6 separate regions of the Homo sapiens genome follow, and all the other regions are reported to be linked to region 6. Evidence: microRNA targets listed by miRTarBase, many of them from high-throughput screens and not tested one by one. Region 6 holds a microRNA gene; each other region holds the end of a gene's coding sequence. Distances are from middle to middle.

Region 1 (4,131 bases), not on the chromosome of region 6:
GTGAGCCACCGCGCCTGGCCTGTTTTTTAAGTCTCAATTTCAGTATTTTAATGCCATCACCTATTTTAATCCCCAGGTCCATCATGACATCTGGTCATCCCTAGACAAGTTCCGAGTGCCCCCAGTCTTCCCCTCCTTCCTCACTCCTCGACCTCGGGAGCAGCCTCCCAACGGCTTTCCTGGGTCCGTCTTTCCCCTTTGATCAGAAACCCGCACAGAAGTCAGGCACCAGGTCTTCTGCCTGAGGCCTCTGGCAGCTCCCACTATGCTGTGAATGAACCCCAACTCCTGGCCTCCGCCTTCCCCTGCCCACCTCCAGCCATGGCAGCCTCCACCCCCATTCCCAGCCCACCAAGCCCTTTCCTGCCTCAGGGACATTGTACGTGCGTGCGATGCCTCCTCCACAGAGCGGACCTCCCTGACCACTGCCCTAATGGGCTTCTCCATCACTGTGGCCTCCACGGCACTTGTCACCACCCATTCGTTTGTTTACTGGTTGTTGTCGGTCACATACGAGTGTGAATTCCACCAAGGCAGGAATCACATTCTGGCTCAATCCCCACCGAATGCCCAGTGCCTGACACACCTGTTCAACCAGTTGCTCTCGTTCTTTTTTTTAAAAAACTTTTTGAGACGGAGTTTCGCTCTTGTTGCCCAGGCTGGAGTGCAATGGTGCAATCTTGGCTCACCGCAACCTCCGCCTCCTGGGTTCAAGCGATTCTCCTGCCTCAGCTTCCCGAGTAGCTGGGATTACAGGCATGGGCCACCATACTGGGCTAATTTTGTATTTTTAGTAGAGATGGAGTTTTTCCATGTTGGTCAGGCTGGTCTCGAACTCCCAACCTCAGGTGATCCACTCGCCTTGGCCTCCCAAAGTGCTAGGATTACAGGTGTGAGCCACCGCACCCGGTCTCTTTAAAATTTTTTGAGACGGAGTTTTGCTCTTTCGCCCAGGTTGGAGTGAGGTGGCGCAGTCTCGGCTCATAGCAACCTCCACCCCCTAGGTTCAAGCGATTCAGCCTCAGCCTCCCTAGTAGCTGGGATTATAGGCAACCACCACCACACCCTGTTAATTTTTTGTATTTTTAGTAGAGACAGGGTTTCACCATGTTGGCCAGGCTGGTCTTGAACGCCTGACCTCAGGTGATCCACCCGCTTCGGCCTAAGTGCTAGGATTACAGGCGTGAGCCACTGTGCCCAGCCTCAGTTGCCTTTTTCGACCTCTCTGTCTCTCCTGGGTGTGAGCCATTGTCTGCTATTGGTGCATTTTGTAATCTTTTGCGACATCCTTGTCCTTGCCTGTTACTGTGTATAGAACAGGGTTTATTTCTGCCTCTCTGGAAGGGTGGGCTAGAGTCTGGATATGTTGGAGGGAATATTATGTGTAGTGACTTCAGTGTTGTCTCTCCCTTTAAGGAATGGGAGGTCCTCTGCCTTCCATGTAGTCACTGCTGTTTCCATTCTACCATGTCGGCATCCAGCCTCTACCCCTTTGTTGCAAGAAAGAATAAATCTGATAAGAGGTACAGGAGAATCCCGAGACCTGGGATGCGCAGGGCAGATATGCCCACCTACACCGCTGTCTGGGGACCTAAAAACAACTCAGACACATGTTTTTACAACTTTTTTAATATATATTTTTATAAACAGGTCACGTGATAAAATAGCACAAGAAACACTTACCAAATATAAGGTTATATCTTCCGCATATACAGGAGAATGAGGTCGTTATGTACAATAAGAAAATGATTTTAGGGGTTGGTTGGTTTTGTTTTCCTCTCTCCCCTTAATTTTTCCTCCTACAGTCGTTGGAAATATCACAGCTTCAGTTGCATTAATACTTTGGGCAAATGGACAGCTGCCCCTCCCCACTAGGGGTTGTGGGGAGGAGGGGCTGGAGAAACTGGCTCCTGACCACTCAGCCCTGGAGCTTCCTGGGGCTGGCACTCCAGGGACAGGAAAATCTTTGGGCTGTTGATCTGTTTCTGATTCAACAGCATCTCTCTCTCTCTTTCTCTCTCTCTCTCACTCTCTTTCTCTCTCTCACTCTCTGGCTCTCTGGAAACTGGTTACTCTCTTCCAACCAGATAGGGAGTGTCCCAAGATTGGGTGTGGGCGCGGTATCTCCTGGGGCTCAAGGTTGGGATGGGAAGGGGTCCCAGCCCCCTCCTCAGCAACAGCTGAGATTTGCCAGCATCCCCCAGGACTTCCAAATGTCTCGGGCCGACAGAGCACGGTCAGAGCCCATTTGGGCAGACAGAAGTTTGGGAAGCTGGGGAGGGGTGAAGTGGGGGTGGGGGGGCAGGCTAGAAAGGAGCCCTCCCTCCTCGGGGTGTCTAGGGTGTGCTGGCCACTGGAAGATTGGAGTCGCTGACCCAGTGCTGACCCTGACCCTTGGCTGGGTCCACTCTGCAGACTCCACCTGAGGAGACCCACCCAGGGTGAAGCTCGGTGCCCAGGCCTGAACTGAGCCCGGCCGGGTGCAAGGGCTGAGGTGTGAGGTCGGCCCAGGCCTCTTCCCAGGCCTGAGGGTGGCTACAGCTCGAGGCTTGCAAGGTGCCTGCGCCACCCCTGGGTTGAGGCCGACCGGAGTCAGCTGGGATCACGTTAATGACTCCAAGCGATCGCCAGCCCTTCCGCCCTCTCCCTGCCCAATTCTCTCAGCCTGGCCAGGGACCAAGGCCGGGTTTTGGGGCGGACAGGGGACTGCCCCACACAGCGGCAAGGAGGAGGAGAGGCCGCGTGGGTCAGGCTGGATGGGTGAGGAGGTGCGGGTGGGGCCTGGGCTCTCGGCGGCGGGCCATGGCTTTGGCGGTGGCCTGTTTCCCCTGACACCCCTCGGAGGGCTCCAGGTATGGTGCGGTGGAAGATGCAGGAAGCCCGTGGGGCTCTTCTGGGCCCGTGTCCTGGGGGACCCAGCCCCCTCAATCCCACTGGGCCCTGCCCGGGATGGGGGGGACAGTGGGAAGACAGAGCGGGTGTGGCGGGGAAGGCGGTAAGGGCACAGTCTGGAGAGCTCAAAGCCCCCCCAAGGACCGAGCCCCGCCCCCCAAGCGGGAGGGCGAGCGAGTGATGGCGGCGGCTGTGGCTGTGGCGTGGCGGAGGGCGGCGTGCAGTGCGGGCACGAGGGGCATGCACAAAGTCCCCGAGTGTGCGTGCGTGCGTGGGGCGGGCCCACCCGCCGCCCCCCTGCCCGGGGCGGGGCTGGGAGGGCGGAGGGACCGAAGGTCGGGGAGGGGCTTTCCCTCGGCTCGCCCCGCCTCCCGCGCTGGGCCGGGGGCGCGGGGGCTCCCCCGAGCGCAAGGCGGGAAGAGGGGGCTCGGCGGCGCCCCGCGCCCCCGCCCAGGTCATGGCCGGGTTCCCGCGACCGGGGCGGGGGCCTCGCGCTACTCAATGACGAGGCAGCGGGGCAGGTGCTGCGAGAAATACTTGAAGAGCTCGGGGGTGGCCCCGGGGCAGTTGGTCAGCTCCAGCTCCTCCAGCTCCTGCAGCTGCACCAGGCCCGACAGCCCGGTGGTGGTGAGCAGCGGGCAGCCTGCGGCGGGGTCAGAGGGCGGCTCAGTGCGCGCGGCCCAGGGCTCGGGCGGGGACGGCCGGGCCGCGCCTCCCTCCTCCTCCGCCTCGGACCCGGGACTGTGTGTCCGCGCCGGGTGTGAGTTTGCACAAGGACCGGGCAGGTTGGGCGGGTGGACTAAGTGGGGGTGGGTGGTCACTGCCAGCGTCAGAGCAGAAACGGGGGTCTCACCTGCCAGAGACAGGAGGCGCAAACTCCCCAGGGCCAGGAGGTGCTTCAGCCCGAAGTCTTGCACCTGTCGGGAGTGGAGGAGCGACTTAACGATTTCCGCTCGCACCGAGGCGGAGGGCACCCTGGGGTCCATGGAGGGCTAGGCGGGTTCAAGCCCGGGGTTCCTCCGTCCCCCCCGGAGCCGGGAGGCGGCTGGGAAGTGCTCGTGGGGGCCGCCGGGACCCCTGCGTTCCGCTTAGGTCGGCTGCTGGATAGGGAGGGGCCCCAGACTCTCCCAGGATCTGAGTGGGGCCGGGAGCTCTCCCCGCGCCCCCACCTCCCCGCCGATCCCCCAATCCCGGGGCGTGAGAGCCGGTACCTGGCAGCACCATCGCAGGTAGAGGCTG
Region 2 (4,000 bases), not on the chromosome of region 6:
GACGGAAGGGATGGAGCCAGAGGAGGGGGTGACAGTTGAGTCTCAGCCACAGGTGAAGGTGGAGCCACTGGAGGAAGCCATCCCTCTGCCCCCTACGAAGAAGAGGAAAAAAGAAAAGGGACAGATGGCAATGATGGAGCCAGGGACGGAGGCGATGGAGCCAGTGGAGCCGGAGATGAAGCCTCTGGAGTCCCCAGGGGGGACCATGGCGCCTCAACAGCCAGAAGGAGCGAAGCCTCAGGCCCAGGCAGCTCTGGCAGCTCCCAAAAAGAAGACGAAGAAAGAAAAACAGCAAGATGCCACAGTGGAGCCAGAGACAGAGGTGGTGGGGCCTGAGCTGCCGGATGACCTTGAGCCTCAGGCAGCTCCCACATCCACCAAGAAGAAGAAGAAGAAGAAAGAGAGAGGTCACACAGTGACTGAGCCAATTCAGCCACTAGAGCCTGAACTGCCAGGGGAGGGACAGCCTGAAGCCAGGGCAACTCCGGGATCCACCAAGAAGAGGAAGAAGCAGAGTCAGGAAAGCCGGATGCCAGAGACAGTGCCCCAAGAGGAGATGCCAGGGCCGCCACTGAATTCAGAGTCTGGGGAGGAGGCTCCCACAGGCCGGGACAAGAAGCGGAAGCAGCAGCAGCAGCAGCCTGTGTAGTCTGCCCCCGGGAAACTGAGGAACTAAAGAAAGCTGAAGGTGCCCACCTGGGCCACCAGAAGGTGACACCCCCAGAATCCCTCCCCAGAGACTGCACCAGCGCAGCCAGCAGGAGCCTGGCCTGGGAGGACGATTTATTATTACACTGGGGGTTTCCTTGGCAGCTGGGGTCATCAGGGTACTTTCAAGAAGGGCTCGTGCAGGACATCAAACAGCCTCCGGGCCTGGATGGGAGGGAGAAAAAAATGAGGAACCAGTCATTAAAGGAGCTGTTTCCTGGGTAAATCTAGAGTGGGGTTTTGGTTCTTTATTTTCCCCTATACCCTCAAGCATTTATCCATTGAGTTACAAACAATCCAGTTACAATCTTTTTAAGTTATTATTATTATTATTATTTTTTTTTTTTTTGAGATGGAGTCTCGCTCTGTCGCCCAGGTTGGAGTGCAGTGGCGCAATCTCGGCTCACTGCAAGCTCCGCCTCCCGGGTTCACGCCATTCTCCTGCCTCAGCCTCCTGAGTAGCTGGGACTACAGGCCCCTGCCCAGCTAATTTTTTGTATTTTTTTTTAGTAGAGATGGGGTTTCACCACGTTAGCCAGGATGGTCTCGATCTCCTGACCTCCTGATGCGCCTGCCTCAGCCTCCCAGTGCTGGGATTATAGGTGTGAGCCACTGCGCCTGGCTAAGTTATTATTATTTTTTTGAGACAGTCTCCTGGTGTCACCCAGGCTGGAGTGCAGTGGTGTGATCTTGGCTCACTGCAACCTCCGCCTCCTGGGTTCCAACGATTCTCCTGCCTCAGCCTCCCGAGTAGCTGGGCCTAAAGGTGCCCACCACTATACCCGGCTAATTTTTGTATTTTTAGTAGAGACAGGGGTTTCACCATATTGGCCAGGCTGGTCTCGAACTCCTGACCTCGTGATCCACCTGCCTTGACCTCCCAAAGTGCTAGGATAACAGGTGTGAGCCACCGCACCCTGCCAAGTTATTTTAAAATGTACCATTATTATTGACTATAGTCACCTGGTTGTGTTATCAAATAGTATGTCTTATTCATTCTTTCTTTGTGTGTGTGTGTGTGTGTGTGTGTGTGTGTGGTACCCATTAACCTTCCCCATCTCCCTGCCAGCCCCTAACTACCCTCCCCAGCCTCCAGGAACTATCCATCCACTCTTATCTCCATGAGTTCAATTGTTTTGATTTTTAGATACACAAATAAATAAGAACATGCAATGTTTGTCTTTCTGTGCCTGGCTTATTTCACTTAACATAATAATCCCCAGTTCATTATGTTGTAATTGACAGGATCTCATGTTTTTTTTGTTTTGTTTTGTTTTGTTTTGAAAAGGGTCTCGCTCTGTCGCCCAGGCTGGAGTGCAGTGGCACAATCTTGGCTCACTGCAACCTCCGCCTCCCGGATTCAAGCGATTCTCCTGCCTCAGCCTCCCAAGTAGTTGTGATTACAGGCACGCGCCACCACACCCAGCTCATTTTTTCATTTTTAGTAGAGACAAGGTTTCACCACGTTGGCCAGGCTGGTCTTGAACTTCTGGCCTCAAGTGATCTGCCCGCCTCGGCCTCCCAAAGTGCTGGGATTAGAGGTGTGAGCCACCGCGCCCAGCCAGGATCTCATTCTTTTTTATGGCTGAAGAGTATCCATTGTGTGTAAGTACCACATTTTCTTTGCCTGGTCATCTGCTGATGGACACAGGTTGGTTCTAAGTTTTGGCAATGTGAACTGTGCTGCAACAAACAGGAGTGCAGATACCTGTTCCATACACTGATTTCCTTTTTTTGGGGATATACCCAGCAGTGGGATTGCTGGATCATGTGGAACCTCAACTTTTCAGTTTTTAGAGGAGCCTCCAAACTGTTTTCCATAGTGGTTGTACTGATTTACATTCCCATCAAAAGTATATGAGGGTTCCCTTTTCTTCACATCCTCGCCACCATTTGTTATTGCCTGTCCACCATTTGTTATTGCCTGTCCTTTGGATAAAAGCCATTTTAAGGCCGGGCACCATGGCTCACACCTGTAATCCCGGCACTTTGGGAGACCGAGGTGGGTGGATCACCAGAGGTCAGGAGTTCAAGACCAGCCTGACCAACCTAGGGAAACCCCATCTCTACTAAAAATACAAAAACTAGCTGGGCATGGTAGCGAGTGCCTGTAATCCCATCTACTCAGGAGGCTGAGGCAGGAGAATCGCTTGGATCCAGGAGACGGAGGTTGCAGTGAGCTGAGATCATGCCATTGCACTCCAGCCTGGGCAACAGAGTGAGACTCCATCTCAAAAAATAATAATAAGCCATTTTAATAGAGCTGAGATGGTATCTCATTATAGTTTATTTTTGGTTTTTGGTTTTCTTTTTTGAGATGGAGTCTCACTCTGTCACCCAGGCTGGAGTGCAGTGGTATGATCTCGGCTCACTGCAAGCTCTGCCTCCCAGGTTCATGCCATTCTCCTGCCTCAGCCTCCCGAGTAGCTGGGACTACAGGTGCCCACCACCACACCCAGCTAATTTTTTTTTGTATTTTTAGTAGAGACGGGGTTTCACCATGTTAGCCATGATGGTCTCAATCTCCTGACCTCACGATCCACCCGCCTCGGCCTCCCAAAGTGTTGGGATTACAGGCGTGAGCCACCATGCCCGGCCTATTTTTGGTTTTTTTTGAGATGGAGTTTTGCTTCTGTTGTCCAGGCTGGAGGGCAGTGGTGTGATTTCAGCTCACTGCAACCTCCGTCTCCCGGGTTCAAGAGATTCTCCTGCCTCAGCCACTCAAGTAGCTGGGATTACAAGCATGCGCCACCACACCCAACTAATTTTTATATTTTTAGTAGAGATGGGGTTTCGCCATGTTGGCCAGGCTGATCTTGAACTCCTGGCCTCAAGTGATCTGCCCGCCTCGGCCTCCCAAAGTGCTGGGATTACAGGCATGAGCCACTGCACCCAGCCTCACTGTAGTTTTGATTTGCATTTTTCTGATGATCAATGATGCTGAGCACCTTTTCATATGCCTGCTTGCCATTTGTATGTCTTTTGAGAAATGTTAATTCAAATATTTTGCCCACTTTTTGATTGGATTATTATATTTTATCCTATAGAGTTGTTAGAACTCTTATCTTCTGATTATTGATTCCTTGTCAGATGGTTAGTTTGCAGATATTTTCTCCCATCCTGTGTGTTGTCTCTTCACTTTGTGGAATGTTTGCTGTGCAGAAGCCTTTTATTCTTTTTTTTTTTTTTAATTTTTGAGATAGAGTTTCACTCTTATTGTCCAGGCTGGAGTGCAATGGCGCTATCTTGGCTCACTGCAACCTCCACCTCCCGGGTTCAAACGATTGTCCTG
Region 3 (4,116 bases), not on the chromosome of region 6:
ACCCGGTTTATATCTTTATTTTTAAGCTTTTTTTTCTTTTTTGAGACTGAGTCTCACTGTTGCCCAGGCTGGAGTGCAGTGGCGTGATCTTGGCTCACTGCAAACTCTGCCTCCCGGGTTCAAGTGATTCTCCTGCCTCAGCCTCCTGAGTAGCTGAGATTACAGGCTTGTGCCACCATGCCCAGCTAATTTTTGTATGTTTACTAGAGACAGGGTTTTGCCATGCTGGCCAGGCTGGTCTCGAACTTCTGACCTCAGGTGAACCACCCACCTCGGCCTCCCAAAGTGCTGGGATTACAGGCGTGAGCCACCATGCCTGGCCTCTGGCTGCAGTATCTGTGGCAGAATGGGACAGGCGAGGATTGAGAACCAGGACATCTGGCTTTTGCCTGTTAACTGACTGTGTGACCCTTGGGAAGTTACTTCTGCTTTTTGGGTTTCTTCATTTGAACAATGAATGGAGGACTAGGTAATTGGTATGCTTTTCAAACATTGGAGAGATTTTCCACACCAACATTCTAGAGGCTAGCTCCAGACATCCTCTTGTGCCCCTTCTCTCTCATGAAAAATGTCCAGTACTGCTGATATAGTTTGGATGTGTGTCCCCACCCAAATCTCATATTGAAATGTAATCCCCAATCTTGGAGGTGGGGCCTAGTGGGAGGTGACTGGATCATGGGGGTGCATTTCTCATGAATGGTTTAACAGCATTCCACTTGGTACTGTCCTCTTGAGTGTTCTTGTGAGATCTGGGTGTTTAAAACGTGTGTGGCACCTCCTCCTGCGCCCCCTTGCTCCTACTCTGGCCACATAAGATGTGTCTGCTTCCCCTTTGCCTTTCCACTATGATTGTAAGTTTCCTGAGGCCTCCCCAGAAGCAGAAGCTACTATGCTTCCTGTATAGCCTGCAGAACTGTGAGCCAATTAAACCTCTTTTCTTTATAAATTAAATTACCCAGTCTCAGGTATTTCTTTACAGCAATTCGAGAATGGATTAATACAATTGCCAATTTTCCTTTTCTTTTTTTAAAAAATAAAAGCCAAAATAACACTTTTAAGATCCCAGGTTTTAGACAAGGCAGCTGTAGTCTCTCCATCATCCTCACTGTCCATTTGCTTCTTCCTGGGACAGACACTGTGGCCCAGTGAAGCTGAGGGGACCCTGGGATTCAAAGCTGGTGGAATGGACCCTCCCTCCCCCCACAAGCTGTAATAACCTGCTGGAATCCCACACAACCTGAGGGCTTCACTTGTCAACAGCTCCCTTCCCTCAGAGGCTATTTTGAGGCAGGCATTCGGTGTTTTATGACTGAGCTACCCAGGAGAATGGTTTGAGGCCACACTCAACTGTTCCAAGGAGCAGCACTGGACCAAAGGCTGCTTGGTTCCCTGCGGTTCCTGATGCCACCCCTTCTCTTCAGGGTGGTTACCTAGAAGACAACAGTACATGAGGCTTCCAGCCCAGCCCTAGGAGATCCATCCCAAAGACCCCACAGAGACCTGCATGGGAGGTGGGGCCACAGGTCTGGTATCAGGCAAACCTAGGTTGGAACACTGGCTCCATAAAGAGGAAGTCACTTAACCTTCTCTGGGGCATGGTTTCTTCATCTGTTCCCACCTCTGAAGACTATCGTAAGACAGAATGAAAGTTAAGCAACTTAACGCAACGCCCAGGATACCAGAATTATTCTAAATGGCAGAATCCTACTTAGTCTGTCATCTTGGGAGTTCTCTAGGCAGGCAGGTTGCCAGGGGTGGGGCTGAGATCCAGATGTGCTCTAGGTCCCTGTCTGCTGCAGAATCATGTGGCTGCTGGACCTGGGGGTCCCCCAGGTCCTTGCAGGAGCTGAGGGTAGGAGACTCCATTTGCCAAACAACTTAGAACTTTGGGCCTCAGTTTCCTTGTCTTTAAAAGGAACAGGTAAAGAATTCATAAAAACAATTGACAAGGGCTGCCTGGAATTTCCCTGTAATCTCTTCCAGGCAGAGGAGGCCTCAGAGGTGAGAGTAAGAGCAGGAAAACAGGGACAGGTTTCACTCTGTTGCCCAGGTGTGGTGGCTCAGGTCTGTAATCCCAGCACTTTGGGAGGCTGAGATGGGAGGATCGCTTGAGGCCAGGAGTTTGAGATCAGCCTGGGCAACACAGTGAGACCCATCTCTGCCAAAAAAATAAAACAATAAACCAGGCATGGTGGTACATACCTGTTAGTCTTAGCTACTCGGGAGGCTGAGGCAGGAGGACTGATTGATCCCAGGAGTTCAAGGCTGCAGTAAGCTGTGCCTGGGTGACAGAGCAAGACCCTGTCTCTCAAGAAAAAAAAAAAAAAAAAAAAAAGGCTGGGCGTGGTGGCTCATGCCTGTAACCCCAGCACTTTGGGAGGCTGAGGCAGGTGGATCATGAGGTCAGGAGATTGAGACCATCCTGGCCAACATGGCAAAACCCCGTCTCTATTAAAGAATGCAAAAAATTAGCCGGATGTGGTGGCACACGCCTGTAGTCCCAGCTACTCAGGGGACTTGCTTGAACCTGGGAGCGGGAGGTTGCAGTGAGCCGAGATCACACCACTGCACTCCAGCGTGGCAACAGAGCAAGACTCTGTCTCAAAAAGAAGAAACAAACAAACAACAAAAAAAACAGCACAGAAGGGTGGTGCTGTGGGCAGAGGGGTATTTCCAGTGGATGGGCTGTTACTGTTTTCTCAGGTTGGTCAAGATCACAGGCCCATGGAATGCTGGGGCCAGAAGGCACTAAGGCCACAGCATCAACATCTACTTCCCAGAGCATAACACCAAGGCCCAGAGCAACTGGGTAATGTGCTGGGAGCTACAATGAGTTTGAGGCAGAGTCTGGGCTAAAACCCATGTCTCCAGACGGGTTTAGGGAGGATCTTAGAAGTTTTAGAAAACATAATGCTTAGTTATGGCTGGGTGTGGTGTCTCACGCCTGTAATCCCAGCACTTTGGGAGGCCGAGGCAGGCAGATCACCTGAGGTCAGGAGTTTGAGACCAGCCTGGCCAACATGGTGAAACCCCATCTCTATAAAAGTTACCCAGGTGTGTTATGCACCTGTAATCCCAGCTACTCGGGAGGCTGAGGCAGGAGAATCATTTGAACCTGGGAGGCAGAGGTTGTAGTGAGCCGCCGAGATCGTGCCACTGCACTCCAGCCTGGGCGACAGAGCGAGACTCTGTCTCAAAAAAAAAAAAAGAAAATATAATGCTTAGTTCTGGTTTAAATTTGCTCACTGACTTTTCTTCTTTGAAGAATCAAATCTAGCTTATGACTCATAAACTAGATAACTATGATAATCTAGTTTATGATTCAGATACACTACGGTGGTAAATTCCTACAATTCAACTTCATGATTTAGCTCTAGTGCTGTAGGAGGGGTCCAGAGAGCTGAGGTCTGCCACTGCACTCAGGCTTGTGGGGGCTGGGTAACACCACCCTGCAGGTGGTAGTGAGAAAAAGAGGACTTGGGTGTTGTTATCTTCTGTGGCAGCAGCTGCCCTGGGGGTTCTGCAGGGAGGGGACAGGGTGAGGCCTTGGGGATAGGGCATTCGGGGCCCACCAGCCTGTGTGGCCTCAGTCTCAGGGAGAAGGAGCACCCGGGTGGCAGTAGAAGCCTCCAGGGAACCTCAGCTGGCATCATTGATGGGAGTGCGGGTGCCACCCAGCAGTCTCTCCTGCTCGCTCTCCTCTGCCAGGGGCCGGCCCCTGGACAGGCGGCCCAGCAGCGGACGGTGTAGCCCATTGTAGAGGGCAGTGCCTATAAGGAGTATGAGGAAGCCAAGGATCTGCAGTGCATGGAAGGCCTCCCAGCCCAGTGCCAGGCTCAGTGCCCAGATGACAACGGTGCGCAAGCTGTCCAACACCATGCGGGTGGTGGCGCTCAGTTCCTTGGTGACGCTGATGCCTGCGAAGTTGAAGAAGGCAATGCTGCTGATGTTGCCCAGCAGTGCCACGGCAATGAGCGGCTGCTGGCCCACCTGGCAGAAGGCGTCCAATGCATCCTCCAGTGTCCCACGAGGGTTTCCGCTGAAGGAGCCGGCGGGGATGTAGTACATGGGCACCAGCAGCAGGGAGAGGATCACAAAGCCAAAGAGGCCTGGGGA
Region 4 (4,000 bases), 200 Mb from region 6:
AGAACAACTGTCAAAGGCCCCGGAGTTTTAGCAACACTTGTTCTGAAAGCTGTGAATAATGAGAATGGCAAAACAGAAAAACGGCATCAGACTGAGTCTAAAGATTTAACATGGCTAGACAGAGCCTTGAGGTAAGAAAGTGAAGAGCTACGCATCTACCCAAAACGGGAGTCGAAGAGGGCCACTGACGCAACACATTAAAATCAGGAAGCTCCATTCTCTTCCCCCCGCAGAGATCCTTTTGGTCAGGGTAACTTTTAGTCACCTCTGACTAGGAATCCAAGTTTCCTTCAACTGACTGAATATTTCACAGAGGTAAACTGATAGCATTCTATGCTGACCCAGTAAAACCCAGGCAGAGTCTACAGAGTTTCTCAGAATTAGAGAAATTGCACATTGACTACAGGGACTCACTACTAGTACAGTTCAGCGCTGAAGTCCACCTGATGCTACCTGTGTAATATGTGAGCAACTCCCCGACTGAAGGTGGCCCTCCTCCCACCCCACCCCCGACAATCACATCATTTCACACTGAAGCAGCTCCCTGGGGGAAGCAGGGCAGGCATAATAAATTACCCATGGAGAGGCTCCCTCCCAGCCAGCTCCAGCTGCTCCACAAGGGAGATCCCACTTCCCAAGCCCTCAGAATCAAACTGGCATTGGAAGTGTTTTCAGAGCTTAATAAAGAAACTACAGACAACTTCGACTAACATTTAAAATTCTTTCTGCCACAATTTCTCAACCATACTTTGCTCCTGAAAGTGTATGTTCATTATTATTGAAAAACTAAATACACACATACATTCTAACTTTCTAATATCTCCTAGTGGCAACTACATTATCTAGAAGTTATGGTTCTATGCTGCTTTAATACATCTACCTCTCTAGTTCAAAGCTGTTGCCACTAAAATGGTATTTATTTTGACCTCTAAAAAAAAATATTTTCAAAATCCGTAAAACCTTTATATACCGTTTATAAGAGCAGTAAGCAGCTATGCACCACTGCTCCATCCCCTTTCTCCTGACCACACTACAAGCTACCAAGACAATCTCATGTAACATAAATCTCTGCCAGCCAAGATGTAACACAGAGGTTAAGACACATTCAGTTCCTAATAAAGAGTTCACAGGAGCACCTGTACTAGAGTAACAGCTGCTGACAACAGTCATCCCAGGACTAGACATACTGGGCCTCCACTCGGGCTGCCAGTGAAGGAATTTTCAAGTGCCCACTGAGGCAACTAAGCATGTTGATTCCAACCTTCTCATGTACCCAGTGAGACTGAGGCAGTGAAGTCTAAATTGAAACCATTAGCTAGAAGGTATCACTGAAGTTGGATGCATGTACCCGATTCCTAATAATTAACACACTAAACAGACCAACTGTAACTGAAAAGCTGTGAAACCAGTAGTAAAATTACTAAAGCCGTTTGATTAGTTTTTTAAACCACCATTATTATACTCCAGAAATGCTGAAGCCTATTACCAGAATTAGGTAATTTAAAAAATAAATGTTCCCAATATTCTTTAATAACTTTTTAGCAGCTTCTAAAACTTCTAAAACCCAATAGGGCCCAAGGCCACCTTCATTAACCAAGTAAATAAAGCAATTCTACTACTTCTGACAATAAGTCTCTCTTAAGCTGACTGCTAATCTGAATTTCTGGCATACAATCTTATCTTTCTGAGAGGATCTGGCCTCTGCACTCAAGCAGTACAAAACAGACAGGAAAACATCTTCATTCAGAAACACTCAGCCAGTCAGGAATCTGCCCAGAGTTGAAAACCAAGACAACCATAGATCCTAACGCACTCGATCCCACTTCCTTAGAGTAAGGCAACAGAGATCTTTCATTCGTTTGGAATGAGTAGAGTAACACAGCCTCAAGCTCAGGACTCTGCGACGTGCACAGAAAAAAAATGCTGTGTACTTTTTTTAATCTGCTAAATTTTACAATGTACTGTACCCAGGAAGAAACCTAAACCACAATGTCCTAGGAGCAATTCCAAGAGACTACTGATGCTCCAACTACAAAAAGCCACCAAAGTCAAAAACAAAACCAAAAGATACCAGTGAAACTGAAGAAAGCCAAAGGCCTGGTGATAAAGACAATCTGGCGACTCCAGGGCCTACCAAACATTTTAGTTTTCAATTTGCCTCCGAATTTTTATAATTCTGAAATGCGAGGGGTGGGGAAGATAACTAATAATTTACCTTTCAACTCAGCATCAATTATTTGCCCAAGTATTAGGTCCCAAAAGACAAAGATGATCCAAGATGGGCTGCCTCATACGTTATAGTTCTTAAGTTCACATCCACCTAACTCAGTTTTAGGAAAGACGTCTCTCCACTGCTCAAGTCTGTCTATTTCAGAACTGAAGAGTGATTCGAAGGCCTCAACCAAAGTATGTTCTCTTCTCTGCTGGTCCAACCTAAGTCAACCAACCCTGCTGGTCCAACAACTTCCAGCAGATGCTGGAGTTTTCCCAACTTTGAAATGCCAAACAGGGCTTAAATAAAAAGAAATAAATGTAGCATTTTATAAGATTTAATTTCCACAATACTAAGTTTAGCGACCTATAAGGTCAAGTTACCACGTATCTCTCTGAAGGCATCTAAGTCTACAACAGAAGGGAAGAAAATCGTTATTTAAAATGCGAACATGAAAAACCTTATTCTTCCAGGCTTCTCCTATAAAAACATAATTCTTTAGACTCCTCTTAGGCAAAACCCCAGGAGTTCGTCTCCTGTTACAACTATAGACCCTGCTCTACACACTATCAGAATTCCAGAACTGTATCACAAGCAGTAACATGCCATCTCCCCACTGTCAGGAAACAAATACCAAAAACCCAACACCACTATCAACTTCCCAACAAGGCCAGGCCTAATTAACAGTCAGCTGCATTTATCATATGGCTTGAGTGCAAATGAACTAACAGCACCTGCATCCCATCTGAAATAACATCAGAATCAGGAAGGAGAGAAATGCGGTTAATTTCCATCCTGACTGCAGGCCACAACCCTCACGTAACTTTGGGAAAACAATTCCTGAATTATTTTCTGAGTAACTTGGATTAGAAGTAAATCAAAGCATATTCCTGAGTTGGAGATCATTTATAAGCTACCCTATATATCTGTTTGAGAATGAAAGAGAAACTAAGGAAACTTGTCATTCTGAATTTCTAACAATTATTCTAAACTACTCATGAACAATTACAGCAAAACTCACCCCAAATGTTAAGGAAAGATCCTAGGGTCACTGAAGTCTGATTTTCAGGGCAAATAAAGCCACCACTTAAAAGGTTTTTCCTGACCTAACTATCTGCCCCTAAAACTCAGTATTTTAATTTTGTATTACAGAATATGAATGGCCTCACTGCATTTTCATAAAACACCAACATATCACTAATAAAACTTCGAACAAAAAAAGAGGCAGCTTGAACGAAACTAACTCAGTGTGTGAGCTCATGTGTGGGCTTCGTTGGTTGTGTTGCGTTTTATAAAAGGACGGCCTCACTGGAAAGTCTAGCACACAGCAATCCTTTTCCAGCCGCTTCTTACAACTCCCAAGAGGCCAAAGAGTCAGATGTTGAGAGCGGCGAAGGTCTTCACCAAGGTGACCTGCGTGTTCGCCTCTGCTTCGCTTCTGTTATTGTCCCTGTGGCTACCTCTGCTCTCCAGGGCTTTGTGGCGGTGCCTCTCCTCCTGCCGCTTCTTCTTCTCCATCCACTGCTGTTCTCGCCTCTGTTTGTTTGTGACCTGAGAGAGAAGGCCATGGTGGTGAGTAGGAAGCACGGGGGACTCAAGCTGCCACCTGCTAGAAGGGAGATGGTGGCAAAGGGCACAGATTGCTTTTCAGCAGGAACAGGGAAAACCAATCTAAGACGCCAAAGATGATTTACTGTCCACTGCTGCTCAAATTTGCATTTAAATTTATATTTCCTTGCTGAACTAGCAAACAAAATCAATTCCATTCTTCTCTTAAAGAAACCAGCC
Region 5 (4,130 bases), not on the chromosome of region 6:
GTGCAATCTTGGCTCCCTGCAACCTCCGCCTCCCAGGTTCAAGCGATTCTCCTGCCTCAGCCTCCTGAGTAGCTGGGATTACAGGCATGCGCCACCACTTTTGGGGTTATCCACTAGAGTTCTAAACAGACTTAGTCACCCACTCCTACCTACCATCAGGAGCCTTGAATAGTTGAATGGAAATAGCCTCCAGTGGAGGGACTACAGATGGGTGGGAAGCTTCCAACAATGGCTCTGTTACAGTGTTGCTCTCTTTTTCTCTTTAAGACCCCACCAACAACTGAACGCTTTGGTCAGGCTGCTACAATGGAAGGAATTGGGGCAATTGGTGGAACTCCTCCTGCATTCAACCGTGCAGCTCCTGGAGCTGAATTTGCCCCAAACAAACGTCGCCGATACTAATAAGTTGCAGTGTCTAGTTTCTCAAAACCCTTAAAAGAAGGACCCTTTTTGGACTAGCCAGAATTCTACCCTGGAAAAGTGTTAGGGATTCCTTCCAATAGTTAGATCTACCCTGCCTGTACTACTCTAGGGAGTATGCTGGAGGCAGAGGGCAAGGGAGGGGTGGTATTAAACAAGTCAATTCTGTGTGGTATATTGTTTAATCAGTTCTGTGTGGTGCATTCCTGAAGTCTCTAATGTGACTGTTGAGGGCCTGGGGAAACCATGGCAAAGTGGATCCAGTTAGAGCCCATTAATCTTGATCATTCCGGTTTTTTTTTTTTTTGTCCATCTTGTTTCATTTGCTTGCCCCGCCCCCGAGACGGAGTCTTACTCTGTCGCCCAGGCTGGAGTGTAGTGGCATGATCTCGGCTCACTGCAATCTCTGCCTCCCGGGTTCAAGCTTGTCCAGGTTGATCTTGAACTCCTGACCTCGTGATCTACCCACCTCGGCCTCCCAAAATGCTGGGATTACAGGGGTGAGCCACCGTGCCCAACCTCACTTGCTTCTTATCCTTACACTCCCCCAGCCCCAGAGAAACTGCCACATACACCACAAAAACCAAACATCCCCCAATGACCTTAGCCCCATTGCTCCATTCACTCCCAGGTGAGAATTCAGGCAAACGTCCACAAAGGTCACAGGCAGCGTACATACGGTTCTGTTATACCCCATATATTACCCCTTCATGTCCTAAAGAAGACATTTTCTCTTAGAGATTTTCATTTTAGTGTATCTTTAAAAAAAAATCTTGTGTTAACTTGCCTCCATCTTTTTCTTGGGTGAGGACACCCAGGAATGACCCTTTTGTGTCTATGATGTTGCTGTTCACAGCTTTTCTTGATAGGCCTAGTACAATCTTGGGAACAGGGTTACTGTATACTGAAGGTCTGACAGTAGCTCTTAGACTCGCCTATCTTAGGTAGTCATGCTGTGCATTTTTTTTTTCATTGGTGTACTGTGTTTGATTTGTCTCATATATTTGGAGTTTTTCTGAAAAATGGAGCAGTAATGCAGCATCAACCTATTAAAATACATTTTAAGCCTTTTAATTTTCTGTGGTGTTTTTGAAGGGGAAAGGAGGGAGGGGAGTTATCTTAGGAGATGAGCAGTAGACTCTATAAAGGTAATCCTTTATGACCTTTGGATTACAGTATTGATCTAGACAAACATGGGGAGGAGGTGGGGATGAGGTGCATCAAATGGCTGGAGGGGTTGGCAAGGATTAGCGCTATTGATACTACATGGAAGTAATGATGGAGGAAAGCTGCCCCTCTGAAAGAGGAAGAAAATGGGCTTAATCCTCATCGAGCTGGGGGCGCGGGGGGGGTCTCAAAATTGGTATTTGTTTCTTAGCAGCTGCTGCTGTGTCCAAGGCTTGGAATTGCTGTGGTGAATCTAAAACTGTCTCAGTAGTGGTGAGCTGACCTCACCCAAGTTCAAAGCCCTACTCTGCCTGATCCTTTTTTCCTGAGCCTCAGAGCTAAAATGCCCCCGAGCTCTTTCCTATTGGCTGGAAAGACGAATTGAAGTTCCCTTGCCCATGTTAGGAGGTGTACGCCTCCTGAACTAAAGATAGAAACAGCTGGCCCTTCCAGGCAGCTAAAAGCCTCCAGACTAAGAGGTGTTCCCCATTCGGCAGCCAGACTCCTTGAAATACCCTTTCAGTAATCATTCAACCAACGCTTCCATGTCTCTACTCTGTCGTAACAAAGGCTGTGGGCAGCACTTTGACCCTAATACCAACCTTCCTGGTGAGTAAAGAATCCTGACCTGGCCAGGGGCTCTGTGTGGGTGTTGGGGACTGGTCAGCTGGGGGGCAGTGTGTTTGAGGAGCGGGGAAAGAAACTACCTGCCCTAGTTTAATTGGTCTGAGTGATCTTACAGCCTTTGCTGGCTTTTTTTTTTTTCTTCACATTATATGGGAAGAAACCATAAATAGAAACCCGGGGAAGAGGTGAAAAATGATACTTGGTATAGTTATCTTCCCTTCCTTGATAACTTCTACTGATGTCCACAGATTCCTGTTGCCATCACCCTGGGGTCCCAATCTTCCATGATGCACTTAAGGTGAGGAGTAGGTGAGGGGGGTTAGCAAGAGCATTTCCCAGAAGAGATAATACCCAGGAAGCTAAGCTGATCTGGGTCTCTTGTTATCAGGGTTGGTCCTGCTGCCGAAAGCGAACTGTAGATTTCTCTGAGTTCTTAAACATCAAGGTAAATTATTTATGTACTTGGATTCTGCCCCCAATAGAAGGATTCTATCCCTAATCCTATCTCCTTATCTATACTAGGGCTGTACTATGGGACCACACTGTGCTGAGAAGCTTCCTGAGGCCCCTCAACCTGAAGGCCCTGCTACAAGCAGTTCACTTCAGGAGCAAAAACCTCTGAATGTGATTCCAAAGTCAGCAGAGACCTTGCGCCGGGAGAGGCCCAAGTAAAGAGGAGGAGGCCCCTGGACTTTTCTTATTTTCATGTAGCTTCCTAGGAGTGATTAATGGGTCATTGAGGACTGGGAACTAGGGACCAGGGATGTGAGGAGGGCCAGATGTCAGGGTTTGGATGGTGTATATCCTGTGCCTTAGGGGAAATTTGTGTCTGGAAATAACGCCCTTTCCTCTAAGGTGGTGTGGGATGATGGGATAGATACCTGAATCAACAGAGTAGATAGCCCCTCACAAATACATCCTTAGTGTATAACACAAAAGGGATTGTTGAGAATGACTTCTCTTTCTAGAAAAGAACTTTAAGATAAATCTCATATCAAGAAAAGGATGTATTGTATTATTGGCAGCCAGGAGACTTCCCAAATTTTGTGGGAATAATAAGAGCAACAGAAGGAAGTCATATTAGGTCCACGATTAGATAAAGAGGAAGAGGATATGACTCAGTTCTGCAGAGAAAAGTGGTTAGGTTTAGAGCAACTGAGTAGATGGGTAAGAGAAGTGCTGGGGATTTCTCTAGGGTTCAGGTATTTGGGATGTCCACAGAGATGAAAATTGGCAATGGGGTTGCTACCCAACCTCTCCAACTCTGCCTCACTTTCACCAGGCTTCTTTAATTCCATTACCATCGGTGGGAGTGTTGGAGCTAGCAATCATAGCTAATGGGTCAGAACTAAATCACCACCCTTAACCCCTAGGTCAGAGTTGCCTCTGAAGCTGCTGCCGCTAAATATATCCCAAGCCCTGGAAATGGCATTGGAACAGAAGGAATTAGACCAGGAACCTGGGGCAGGTAGGTGGGTCTTTAGTAGGATCAACTTCATAGACTGGAATTTAGTGGAAGTGGCAATTGAGTGGGGGGATGGATAAGTTCCTGACTCTGTTTCCCTTGCCCAGGACTTGACAGTCTGATCCGGACTGGTTCCAGCTGCCAGAACCCAGGATGTGATGCTGTGAGTGAGAGTTTTGAGGGGCTCAAGCATATGGCTGAGGGATGACTGGGTATAGATAGGCTGAGTAGGATATACCTTAGAATGACCTGGTTCTACTTTATCCTTCTTAGGTTTACCAAGGCCCTGAGAGTGATGCTACTCCATGTACCTACCACCCAGGAGCACCCCGATTCCATGAGGGGTGAGGGAGGGGACTGGGTGGGCTATGAGGCTATGAGACAGGTTTCTCCTAATATTTGGTCATAAGATAATATTGGGGGTGAGAGAATTCAGTTGAATTATCTTCCT
Region 6 (4,131 bases):
ATAATTTTCTAGGCCTAGTAGAGTGACTAATGAAGGCCTCTTTGACAATGTGATATATAAGGAGACCTGAGTGAAGAGAGGGAGAAAGCCATGTGACTAGCTAAAGTTTTCCAGGCAGAGGGAGCAGTAATTCTAAATGCTCTAGAGTAGGAATATGCTTGCTGTGTCTGAGGAACACAAAGGAGATCTACATGATGAAACACAATGAACAGGGAGGGGAACCCTACAGGAGACAGTGTCAGAGGTACCATAAGCCAGATAAAGTTGGGCCTTGTATGTCACGGTAAGGAGCAACCAGAAGAAGAAAGATGATGTAGAAAAAAAAAGGAGGAGCAAGTTTGACAGGAGGAAATTACTCGATTTTGGATATGTTAAGTTTGACATCTAGGTAGAAATTATTCAGTAGGGAGCTGGAGAAATGAGTATGAGGCTTCAGCAAGAGGTCAGGACTCCATAAAAATGGAGATACTGGGAATCTATTTCTTATGCTCCTTGTTTGTGATTTTAGACAGCAGGGGGTGAAAATATTTATTCTTAAGACTATATTAATTTGGCTTTCATCCTCACCATTCTACTGTAACTTTCATATCAAAAGTCAGTAAGTAAATAACTCCATGTTGTCAAATCCAATGGACCTTCTTCTTTTCTTGAACTCTACGAAACATTCCACAGTAAACCACTCCCTCTCAAATTTATATGTACATTCCCAGCTTCCTCCCTGAACTTCTGACTCTCATGTCCAATTCGTATACTTGATACCTCTACTTGAATGTTTAACTGTGTCAGAAGTTAACCTGTAAAAACGTAACTCTTTATTTGACTACCTTAAATCTCTTCCTCTCCTCCTCCTTATTCTCATTTCAGTAAACAGTCTCATCATCCAGCCCGTTGCTCAAACTTAAAAATTAAGAAACCCTTAATTCTTTCCTTCCTCTTGTTTCTCAAAACCATCCCTGAGCAAGTACAAAAGGTATCTCAAATCTGTCTACTTCCTTCCAACTCCACTGCCTCCACCATAAAGCCATCATTCTCTCTTGGGTGAATTATTGCAATAACTGGTCTCCTTGCTTTCTTCTACAAGCATCTCTCTACCCAGCAAACAGGGAGATATGTTTAAATGTAATCCCCTACTTAGAATCCATCAGTGACATCCACTGCATTTAGAATAAAATCGGATCTCCTTATCCCTACGTGATCTAACCCCAGTCTGCATCTCCAACCTAACCTTGTCCTGTTTTCCCCTCACTCTTTACAGTCAAGTCACACCAACCCCCTTTCTGTTTCTTGAACACTCTGAGGTCTTCAAGGCTCCCAGGCCTATATCCCTGATGCTCCTCTACCTAGAATGCTCTTCCTACACCTCTTTCCATAGCTGGCTCCTTCTCATCCTTCAAGTCTCAGTCTGAATGTCATGTCCTTGGAGAGGCCTTTCCTCACTAGTCTACCTAAAGCACCCTCTTCCTTTACTCTCTACCATAACCTACTTATTTTCTTCATGATGCCCACTAAGAGTTTGATATTCATTTAGTTTATTGTTTGTCTCCCCATCACCAAAACGTAAGCTTTATCAGGGTGGGGTCCTATCTTGTATTTCTAGCACAAATATTAATAGGTACTCATTTATTTGTTGAATAAATTAACCAGACCTCTACATAAAGATGTACATACAATAACGTTTATTGTACCTTTTTTCATTTTGTAGGCTGGGGATAAATGAATAGAATAATAGTTTCTATCCAATCATTTTCCCTAGCCAGTTTCAATGTTCCAAAGTTTAATTAACAGAGCAGGGAAGCTACCCTGAACTGAACTTAACACTTTGGAATTTTGCAGCATTTTTATGCTAGCAAAAAAGTAGACACACTGAAATGTTTACCAATAGGTTTTTATTACAGAGTATTCCATGTAAGAGCTATGCAGTAAATAGAAAGATGGCCTGTGTGTCAGATATCCTTAGCCTCTTTAGAGTCACTCTCCTTCCTCTTCTCCTTGCTCTTTCTCTCCCAGTGTCCAGTTTGCATAGAATGAGTAGAACTTGACCAAGTGAACAAACACAGAGGAGGCATTCTAGCCCACATGCACATAGATCTAGGGATAAAAGTGTATGGTGTGCTGGAGAAACAATAAGTGTGTCCTCCTCTGCTCCCACTACAGCTGGTCCCCTTGTCTGTTACAATTACTATGTTGTAGTATTGTAGCCATTCTCATGTGTTTCTTCTAACCAGGCTCCTAGACTCACACTTTCAGACAACAGAGAAGCATGTCTTTACATCTCTATACCCTCAGTACCTAACACAGTAAGCTCTCTTATAGTGGCTGCAAGAAGAAATCTGCTTTTATCTATATTTTACTAGTTTAAAGGTTACTTTTTTTTTTAAGCGATGGGGTCTCGCTATATTGCCCAGGTTGGTCTTGAACTCTTGGGCTCAAGAGATCCTCCTACCTCAGCCTTCTGAGTAGCTGAGATTACAGGTGCAAGCCACCACACTTGACCAAGGTTACATTTTTAAGACTGATTTATATGGTCATTATATAGACCAAATTTGTCTGTAGAAAAATTAGTCAAACAGTGAGTGACTTAAAACTGTACAATACTGTGGCTGAGGGCATAATTAAATCTTTATTAAAACTGCTACCATTTCTTTTTGTTTTTGTTTTGCTTTCTTGAGACAGAGTCTCGCTCTGTCACCCAGGCTGGAGTGCAGTGGCGTGATCTTGGCTCACTGCAACCTCCACCTCCCGGGTTCAGGCAATTCTCCTGCCTCAGCCTCCTAAGTAGCTGGGAATACAGGTGTGCACCACCACACCTGGCTAATTTTTGTATTTTTAGTAGAGACGGGGTTTCACTATGTGGGTCGGGCTAATCTTGAACTTCTGGCCTCATGTGATCCACCCACCTCGGCCTCCCAAAGTGCTGGGATTACAGGTGTTAGCCATCATGCCCAGTTTTAAAGATATATGCCTATGATGATCTGAATCTGAACTAACTTCCAGATGTCTCACTAAAGGCAATGCATTTTTTCACATAAGAATAAATTTTGGCCGGGTGCAGTGGCTCACGCCTGTAATCTCAGCACTTTGGGAGGCTGAGGCGGGTGAGGTCAGGAGTTCAAGACCAACCCAGCCAACATGATGAAATCCCGTCTCTATTAAAAATACAAAAATCAGCCAGGCGGGGTGGCGCATGCTTGTAATCTCAGCTACTTGGGAGGCTGAGGTGGGAGGATCACTTGATCCTGGAAGGTGGAGGTTGCAGTGAGCTGAGATCATGCCACTGCACTCCTGCCTGGGTGACAGAGCAAAGCTCCATCTTAAAAAATAATAATAATAAATAAAGAATAAATGCCCATTTCTAATAAATGAGATACTTCAATAAAAAGTGTAAGAAGTAAATTCCAAGAGAATTTGAATTAGTAATACTTACCAACACTAGCATGATCAATAATAGTGTCAATATCTTGTAGACCCCATTTCTTATAAGCTAATGGTGGTGGTTGTATGTTCTCATTGCCTGATGCTGCAGCTACCAAAGATAAAATAAGACAATCCAAACTTATTATGGATAAAATGAAGTTTTACAAAAAAACATTAAAACCATACTAATTTGTTATTCTAAAATTTCAGCTAATAATGACACAAAGTAATGAAAACAAGGCATAAGGTGAGATTTATTCACACCAAGACAATGCACGTAAAATGCAAACATTTAAAAGACTAAGTTGGCTGTCACAAAAGATTCTGGAACACTCCAGTAATTAAAGAAGACTATTAAAAATCCTAGACTACTACTAAAAATCAAAGGGAATTCAGGCCGGGCATGGTGGCTCATGCCTGTAATCCCAGCACTTTGGGAGGCCGAGGCAGGCAGGTCGCTTGAGGTCAGGAGTTTGAGATCAGCCTGGCCAACATGGTGAAACCCCATTTCTAGTAAAAATACAAAAATGAGCCAGGCGTGGTGGTACATGCCTGCAGTACCAGCTACTCGGGAGGCTGAGGCAGGAAAATCACTTGAACCTGGGAGGTGGAGGTTGCAGTAAGCTGAGATCACGCCACTGCACTCCAGCCCGGGTAAGAGAGGGAGACTCCGTCTCGAAAACAACAAAAGAAAACAAAACAAAAACAAAGTGAATT

Evidence for each region. The annotated mature microRNA hsa-miR-664a-5p reads ACUGGCUAGGGAAAAUGAUUGGAU and lies in region 6 at 1,735-1,758, opposite strand. An mRNA with a match to its seed (bases 2 to 7 or 8) in the 3' UTR can be bound and repressed. Matches are read on the target gene's strand: a 7mer-m8 pairs with bases 2 to 8, a 7mer-A1 pairs with bases 2 to 7 and ends in A, and an 8mer does both.
Region 1: the mRNA of FBXL16 is a reported target of hsa-miR-664a-5p. Seed matches in the 3' UTR shown: 7mer-A1 at 2,050-2,056.
Region 2: miRTarBase lists POLR1G as a target of hsa-miR-664a-5p. Seed matches in the 3' UTR shown: 7mer-m8 at 1,241-1,247.
Region 3: miRTarBase lists SLC35F6 as a target of hsa-miR-664a-5p. The part of its 3' UTR that is shown has no 7-base or 8-base seed match.
Region 4: miRTarBase lists OTUD3 as a target of hsa-miR-664a-5p. The part of its 3' UTR that is shown has no 7-base or 8-base seed match.
Region 5: the mRNA of NONO is a reported target of hsa-miR-664a-5p. Seed matches in the 3' UTR shown: 8mer at 457-464.

The regions. Positions count from the first base shown.
Region 1 is chr16:690,889-695,019 of GRCh38, forward strand. FBXL16 (F-box and leucine rich repeat protein 16) reads right to left here. Exons shown (of 6, transcript NM_153350.4): 4 at 4,104-4,131; 5 at 3,746-3,809; 6 at 1,612-3,535. The coding sequence ends at 3,387. Among named protein-coding and RNA genes, the nearest start is that of WDR24, 2.6 kb to the left of the region's middle.
Region 2 is chr19:45,408,853-45,412,852 of GRCh38, forward strand. POLR1G (RNA polymerase I subunit G) reads left to right here. Exons shown (of 3, transcript NM_012099.3): 3 at 1-1,885. The coding sequence ends at 649. It overlaps ERCC1 (ERCC excision repair 1, endonuclease non-catalytic subunit), which reads right to left. Exons shown (of 10, transcript NM_001983.4): 10 at 1-873. The coding sequence ends at 823. Among named protein-coding and RNA genes, the nearest start is that of POLR1G, 4.2 kb to the left of the region's middle.
Region 3 is chr2:26,778,035-26,782,150 of GRCh38, reverse strand. It overlaps SLC35F6 (solute carrier family 35 member F6), which reads right to left. Exons shown (of 6, transcript NM_017877.4): 6 at 920-4,109. The coding sequence ends at 3,640. Among named protein-coding and RNA genes, the nearest start is that of CENPA, 6.0 kb to the left of the region's middle.
Region 4 is chr1:19,907,333-19,911,332 of GRCh38, reverse strand. It overlaps OTUD3 (OTU deubiquitinase 3), which reads right to left. Exons shown (of 8, transcript NM_015207.2): 8 at 1-3,763. The coding sequence ends at 3,587. Among named protein-coding and RNA genes, the nearest start is that of PLA2G2E, 14 kb to the left of the region's middle.
Region 5 is chrX:71,299,675-71,303,804 of GRCh38, forward strand. It overlaps NONO (non-POU domain containing octamer binding), which reads left to right. Exons shown (of 12, transcript NM_007363.5): 12 at 268-1,494. The coding sequence ends at 402. It overlaps ITGB1BP2 (integrin subunit beta 1 binding protein 2), which reads left to right and starts at 2,076. Exons shown (of 11, transcript NM_012278.4): 1 at 2,076-2,196; 2 at 2,463-2,512; 3 at 2,603-2,659; 4 at 2,737-2,882; 5 at 3,588-3,682; 6 at 3,787-3,842; 7 at 3,953-4,023. The coding sequence starts at 2,133. RefSeq lists an enhancer at 3,874-4,130.
Region 6 is chr1:220,198,852-220,202,982 of GRCh38, forward strand. MIR664A (microRNA 664a) reads right to left here and starts at 1,768; the gene lies at 1,687-1,768. RAB3GAP2 (RAB3 GTPase activating non-catalytic protein subunit 2) reads right to left here. Exons shown (of 35, transcript NM_012414.4): 9 at 3,425-3,523. It overlaps SNORA36B (small nucleolar RNA, H/ACA box 36B), which reads right to left and starts at 1,825; the gene lies at 1,695-1,825.